Homo sapiens: one gene and its partner. Changing the gene in region 2 together with the main gene of any one other region gives a genetic interaction. Each region holds a gene or a part of one and is shown on either strand. Other genes may lie near its edges. The genes, in order: MAPKAP1 and TIMM9.

The links.
Region 1: changes in TIMM9 (region 2) and MAPKAP1 together harm fitness more than expected from each alone (negative genetic interaction), as found in Homo sapiens cells (one large-scale study listed by BioGRID).

What each region holds. Positions count from the first base shown.
Region 1 is NC_000009.12:125,700,391-125,704,210, reverse strand, and holds part of MAPKAP1 (target of rapamycin complex 2 subunit MAPKAP1), read left to right. Parts: intron 1-3,820. UniProt on the Homo sapiens protein: Component of the mechanistic target of rapamycin complex 2 (mTORC2), which transduces signals from growth factors to pathways involved in proliferation, cytoskeletal organization, lipogenesis and anabolic output.
Region 2 is NC_000014.9:58,414,032-58,417,851, reverse strand, and holds part of TIMM9 (mitochondrial import inner membrane translocase subunit Tim9), read left to right. Parts: intron 1-771; exon of another isoform or gene 772-806; coding exon of another isoform or gene 807-809; intron 810-3,820. UniProt on the Homo sapiens protein: Mitochondrial intermembrane chaperone that participates in the import and insertion of multi-pass transmembrane proteins into the mitochondrial inner membrane.

The DNA of each region.
Region 1 (3,820 bases), on a different chromosome or scaffold from region 2:
GATTATCTGCTGAACACTGAGATCGGCACTCTTCATTACTACACCATGTTGCTTGTTCTTTGTGATGTGGATGCGGACCCTCTGGAAAGGCTTCAGAGAGAAACTTGCCCTTGAGCTGTAGCTTCAGTGTGCCAGTCATTGTGAGACAGGAGGGATCACGAGGAATGGAAGTGGCCTTTGCACTAAAGGAGCTCATAGCCTTATCTGTTACTTTAAATGTTTTTCTTTTTTGGTGGGGGAGCTTGTTTTGCTTATTGACTTATACCTGAAGACTTCAGAAACTTTTGCAGTTGAGTGGATTTATATGATTCAGCCTAAGATAATTTGCTGGCAATCTGTTATTCTGATGTATAGGCCTTACTGTTACGGACGCAGTTGTAGATGTCAAATTATTATATGACAAGGACTTCTGTCACGTTACTTGTTTTTTTTTTTTTTTTTGAGACAGTCTTGCTCTATCACCCAGGGTGGAGTGCAGTGGCATGATCTTGGCTGACTGCAACCTCTGCCTCCTGGGTTCAAGAGATTCTCTTGCCTCAGCCTCCCAAGTAGCTGGGACTATAGGCAGGTGCCACCACGCCTGGCCAATTTTTGTGTTTTTAGTAGAAACGGGGTTTTGCTGTGTTGGCCAGGCTGGTCTCAAACTCCTGACCTCAAGTGATCTGCCTGCCTCGGGCTCTCAAAGTGCTGGGATTACAGGCGTGAGCCACCATTCGTGGCCACATTACGTTTTTTCCCTATGGGAGGTGCCCTGACTTGTTTCTGTGAGTTCGAAGTTTTTGTGAAGTTTTTTGACTCAGAAGTCAGCATATTTCAGCTTGTGTTAAATTTAAGAGGCTTAGTGGTTAAATATGTTACTTAAGAGTCACAGAGCTAATGTGTGATAGAGCCACAAAAAACTGGCCAAAAAAGAGTAAACAAATCTTCATTAAATTATTATTATTGTTCTGTTTGAGCATCTTCCTCAGTGGTCTCCAAGTCCGATGCCTGTTATGTACTAGGATGAGTAGGCTGGGCCTTGATGAACTGGAGAGCACGGGCCCAAACTAAAGGGAGCAGTTGCTGCTCAGCTCCACTTGCTTGTTGCCATGTGAGGAAGTGGGCCCAGTGTCCTTGGATCTTTTGACACTTTTTGGAAAAGATGCTGGAAATCTGGATTTTAATTTATTCTTATTTATTTATTTAACTTTTAGAGACAGGGTATCGTCCTATCAGGCTAGAGTGCAGTTTCGTGGTAATAGCTCACTACAGCCTTGAATTCTGGGCTCAAGTGATCCTCCCACCTCTGCCTCCCCAATAGCTAGGACTACAGGCGCATGCCACTATGTGTAGCTAGTTTTTTTTTTTTTTCTTTTTTTGAGACAAAGTCTCGCTCTTGTTGCCCAGGCTGGAGTGCAGTGGCATGACCTTGGCTCACTGCAATGTCCGCCTCCCGGGTTCAAGCGATTCTCTTGCCTCAGCCTCCTGAGTAGCTGGGACTACAGGTGCCCATCACCACGCCCAGCTAATTTTTGTATTTTTAGTAGAGACAGGGTTTTGCCGTGTTGGCCAGGCTGGTCTTGAACTCTTGACCTCAAGTGATCCGCCTGCTTCAGGCTCTCAAAGTGCTGGGATTACAGGGGTGAGCCATTGCATCCGGCCATGTACTAGCTAGTTGTTGCTTTTATTTTTTTTGTGGGAAGGAGTTTCGCTCTTGTTGCCCAGGCTGGAGTGCAATGGCGCGATCTTGACTCACTGCAACCTCCACCTCCTGGGTTCAAGCAATTCTCCTGCCTCAGCCTCCTGAGTAGCTGGGATTACAGGTATGCGCCACCACGCCTGGCTAATTTTGTATTTTTAGTAGAGGCGGGGTTTCTGCATGTTGGTCAGGCTGGTCTCGAACTCCCGACCTCAGGTGATCCACCTGCCTTGGCCTCCCAAAGTGCTGGGACTACAGGCGTGAGCCACTGCGCCCGGCCTAATTTTTAAAAAAATTTTGTAGAGATGGTGTCTATCTATGTTGCCTAGGCTGGTCTTGAACTCCTGCCTTCAAATGATACTCCTGCCATGGCCTCCCAAATTGTTGGGATTACAGGTGTGAGCCACTGCATGTCGTGGATTTTAATGTATTTAGTTTAAAAATTTGCCATTAAAAATTATGTTGATCAAAACATATTTGTGGGCTGAGTGTAATTCTAGGCTGCCTGATTGTGAACTCCAACCTACCTGGCTGCTGAAATTTTGGTACCTGTTGTTCAGAGCAGGAAGTATACAATACAATGTTTTGATTATTGATTAGAAATCTCATGGTAAATTGCCAGTGTGAGGGGGCATTGTAGCTTGCGCTGATAGTTTTGGAGAGTGGCAAGGTCAATGCTTTTATTGTATAATCAAGCTAAAGTATAGATCTGGCTGGTGAGATGACCTTATAACACTTCTATTTTGTGCTCTTAGCACTTTAAATGCTACCAGATTTCTTGTCTCTTGGCCCTCTCCACAATAGTATGAAGTGGTATGGTAAATTTGTTAAATGCTCTTGTATACCTTATTTTCTTTAGTCTTCATAGTCCTATGAGATAGGTAGTATTACAAAGGGGGTAATCATCACCTCTTGAGATGAAGAAATCGGCACCCAGTGAATCACAGTTTAGTGGAAAGAGCAGTTGACTAGAGAGGGTGTTGCATCCTGAATATGCGGATACCACTAACAGCCAGTGAATCACAGTTTAGTAGCAAGTGCAGTTGACTAGAGAGTGATTTGCATCCTGAATATGCGGATACCGCTAACAGCCTTTGGAGTTTGGTCACGTCACTTACAAATCCTCGGATCTTTTTTCCTTTTTGGATAAATAATGAGGAGTAAAATTCAAGTCTTGCTGAAATTCAATTCGTAATATCCTATACTTGAGTATACTTTTACTAATATACTTTTATTACTGATGCAAAGTATACTGAATGTGTAAAACTTCAAAAAAATAACATTTTCCAGTTCCCTGCGGACTCATTTTAAGGTACTGTGTTACAAATAAGTACCATTTCAGCAGAGAAATTGGTAGAAAATTGAAGGAATGGTTTTCTTTTCGGGATGCCAAGCTTTCTGTTTCTAATTGATATGCTTAAAGTCACACAACTGATTACTGGCAGACTCCAGTGGAGATGACTCAAATCTAAAATGCTGCCCCTCCTCTCTTGCTGGCAGGTCAGGAACCACTACTCAGCTCTTCATCTGTTCTTTATTCATTACTTCCTCTGGGAAAGGCCCTTGATGGGCCAGGTGCTCCCCCAGTGCATGCAGTGCCTATTGACTATATGTACTCAAGATTGAAAGGGGGCGTAGAGACACCCAGCACAGTGAGAGAAATATGGTCAGGGAGTTCCCAGCCCAAGAGTTTAATTTATTTTTATTTTAATACCCAGCTTTCACAAGGTGAAAATTGAAGAAATACTGGTCTTGTAGATACTTGTTTTCATTCATACTCTATTGTATAAGGAAATAACAGAATATAAAAATAAAGGGAATAAATCCTGAGCAGTCATTCAAAATTTATTAACTCTAGTTGGCAGCAGTCTAGATATATTGGGGAAATGGATTTAATATAGGCAACACAAAATTTGGACTGAAAGTAGAATACAGTTTTATGTAATTGAAAGTGAGAAAAATGGGAGAAACCACTTAAAAAACAAACCCGAAACTCTAGAAAGAACAAGAAGGTATTAGAATAACTATTGGAATTAAGTTATAGTAATTGCTTGTGAAATAAGTGGAATATTATGTCACATTTATGCCTAAATATAAGCAGTGTTAGATTCTTAATATCCTATACGTGAGTATACTTTTATG
Region 2 (3,820 bases):
CTCTTGCTAGTAGGTTTGTCAGTTTTATTAATCTTTTCAAAGAACTAGCTCTTTCTTTTTTCTCTTTTCATTTAAATTGATCTCTGCTCTTTATTTCCTTCATTGGGTTCATTTTGCTCTTCTTTTTTAGGTGCTTGAGGTAGGAGGAGCTTGGATTACTGATTTAAGACCTTCCTTCCTTCCTACCTTCCTTCCTTCCTTTCTTCCTCCCTCCCTCCCTCCCTCCCTTCCCTCCTTCCCTAAGTCCCTCCCTCCCTCCCACGCTCCTTTCCCTCCCTCCCACGCTCCTTTCCCTCTCTCCCTCCCCTTTCTTCCTTCCTTACCTCCACTTCCTTTTTTTTTTTTTTTTTTTTAACAGGGTCTTGCTGTTTTATCTGAGCTGGAATGCAATGGCATGATCATAGCTCACTGCAGCCTTAAACTCCTTGGCTCAGGCAATCCTGCCTCAACCTCCAAGTAGCTGGGGGTATAGGACATGCCACCATGCCCAGCTACTTTTCTTTCTTTTCTCTTTTCTTTTCTTTTCTCTCTTTCTTTTCTTTTTTTGGAGAGAGAAGGTATCACTATGTTGCCCAGTGTATTAGTCCATTTTCACACTGCTGGTAAAGACATACCCTAGACTGGGCAATTTACAAAAGAAAGAGGTTTAATGGACTTACAGTTCCACATGGCTGGGGAGGCCTCACAATCATGGCTGAAGGCAAGGAGGAGCAAGTCACATCTTACATGGATGGCAGAAGGCAAAGAGAGAGAACTTGTGTAGGGGATCTCCTCTTGATAAAACCGTCAGATCTTGGGAGACTTATTCACTATCATGAGAACAGCATGGGAAAGACTTGCCCCCATGATTCAATTACCTCCCACCAGGTCCCTCCCACAACACTTGGGAATTCAAGATGAGATTTGGGTGGGGACATAGCCAAACCATATCACCCAGGCTGGTCTTGAACTCCAGAGCCCAAGGAATTCTCCCACCTCAGCCTCCCAAAGTGCTGAGATTACAGGCATGAGCCACGACACCTGGCCTTTTTCCTTTTCTAATGTATGCATTTAGTACTAAAACTTTTTCTCATGGCACTGATTTAGTTTATCACCATGTAATGATGTCAGCATATTACCAGTTCAAGTGAAGTATAGAAACCTTAATTGTCTACATACATTTAGAACCACAATAGATGGTTTTATAATTTTTGCTTCAACCGACAAACATAATTTAGGAAACTCAAGAGAAGTGTATTGTACCTATTACTGTGTTTTCCTCCTTGATGTTCCAGGACTACTACTTTTATCATTTTCTTCGTTTAGAAACTTGAGCGATTATTTTAGGTAGCTATGCTGGTAACACATTTTCTTAGTTTTCCTACATTTGAGAATGTCTTGATTTCTCCTTTATTTCTCAAGGTTGTTTTCACTAGATACAGGTTTCTGCATTGACAGTTGTTTTCCTTTAGCACTTGAAACATTTTGTGCCACTTCCTTGTGGCCTCCATAGTTTCTAAAGAAAAATCTGCTTTCATCCTAATGGTTTTACCCCTACAGGCAAGATATAGTTTTTCACTTGCTGCTTTCAATGGCTTTTTGTCTTTATTTTTTATTTTATTTATTGTTATTTATTTATTTATTTGCTACAGAGTCTCACTCTGTCACCCAGGCTGGAATGCACTGACATGATCTTGGCTCACTGCAACCTCTGCCTCCTGGGTTCAAGCAATTCTCGTGCCTCAGCCACCTGAGTAGCTGGGATTACAGGTGTGTGCCACCACGGCCAGCTGCTTTTTGTATTTTTTTTTTTTTTTTCAGTAGGGACGGGGTTTCACCATGTTGACCAGGCTGGTCATGAACTCCTGACCTCAATCGACCCACCCGCTTTGGCCTCCCAAAGTGCTAGGATTATAGACGTGAGGCACTGCGCTCAGCCTTGTCTTTAGTTTTCAGATGTTTGACTATTATGTGTCGATGTAGGTTTCATCGGGTTTATGCTGTTTGGGGTTTGTTCAGCTTTTTGAATCTGTAGGTTTATGTCTTTTGCCAAACTTGGGGAGTTTTCAGCCATTATTTCTTCCACTACTTTTACTACCCTACCCTTTTCTTCCTCTCCTTCTTGGACTCTAATGAGACAAAATATTCACTTTTTTATACTTCTACAAGTCCTTTGTACTCTGTTAATGTTTTTCATTCTGTTTTTCTCTGTAATTCAGGTTGAAGAATTCTATTTTCTGGCTTCCAATTCACTGATTCCTCTGTCCCCTCCATTCTCCTATTGATTTTATTCATTGAGTTTATTTTGGTTATTGTATTTTTCACTTCTTAAACTTTCCATTTGGGTCTTGATATCTTCTATTTCTTTGCTGAGACCTTCTGTTTTTTCATTTGTTTCAAGTGTGTTCATAATTGCTCACTGAAGTATTTACAAGGTGCTATTTAAAAATCTTTGTCAGATAATCCTAACACATATTAATCAATGTTGAGCATCTGTTGTCTTTTTTTAATTCAGTTTGAGATCTTCCTAGTTCTTGGTGTGATGAGTGATTTTTTAATATATTGTAGCCTGGACATCTTGCATATCATGTTATGAGGCTCTAGATGTTATTTAATCATTTTATCTGGCTCCTTTTGACAATGCTCCATGAGGGGAAGTGGTGGGAGGTACCACTTCATTACTGCCAGGTGGAAGTAGAAATTCATCTTCCTCACTCTGACACTTGAAGGGAGGGGCAGGGAGTTTCTTGTTACTGCTAGGTGGAGTAGGCATTCTGGCTCCTCACCAGGCTTCCACTGATAACTCCCTGGCTGGGAAGGACTACAGTGCTTTGTTACTCTCCCCATGTGGCCTCCACTGACATTACAGCAGGGTACATGGCCTAATTGTCATGAGGCAGTAATGCAAGTCCTGAATGTCAAGTAGGCCTCCTTAGATACCACCCCAGAGTAGATGGAGATGGGTACCTCATTACTGCCAATTGGGGTGGAAAGCCAGGCTCCCTGTGTGGTTTCCACTGACACTCGCTGGGGAGTGGGGAGGCTTTTCTGTGCATACGAAGGAAATGACATTTTTTTAAATGTCAGTAGTTATTGTGAATTTCTTTCTTTCTTTTTTTTCTTTTTTTTTTTTTTTGAGATGGCGTCTCACTATGCGGTGCAGGCTGGAGTACAGTGCTGCAATCTCGGCTCACTGCAACCTCCGCCCAAGGGGTCAAGCAGTTCTCCTGCCTCAGCCTCCTGAGTAGCTGGGATTACAGGCATAAGCCACCATGCCCGGCTAATTTTTGTATTTTCAGTAGAGATGCGGTTTCACTATGCTGTCCAGGCTTGTCTCCAACTCTTGACCTCAGGTGATCCACCTGCCTCAGCCTCCCAAAGTGCTGGGATTACAAGTGTGAGCCACCGTGCCCAGCCTAGTTATTGTGATTTTATAGGATAAGAAAAAAGGAGGAAAGTATAGGTATGGTTGAGACTGGTGGAATGGAATTACTGTTGATTGTATGTGTTAATCAAAAGCAGAATGTTAATTTTTTTTTGTGATGGTGGCATACACTTTGTCCTAAACTTGAATTTACTACTAGTTTCAACGAACTTCATAAAAATTAGTTTCAACAAAGCTTCATAAAGAATTTATGTTTTCCAGAGATACTTTAATAATTGATAAGCTAATAAAAATTTGCACATCCAGTTTATCATTTTTGTTTTGGTTATCAGAAAACTCTTAACTAAATAAAATGTATAGCATTTATGTTAGTCTACAGTGTACATGATTCATGTTTTCCTTTTACATGCTGTTTAATTTCTGTTTCAAACAGCTTTATTTTATACAAACCTTTTT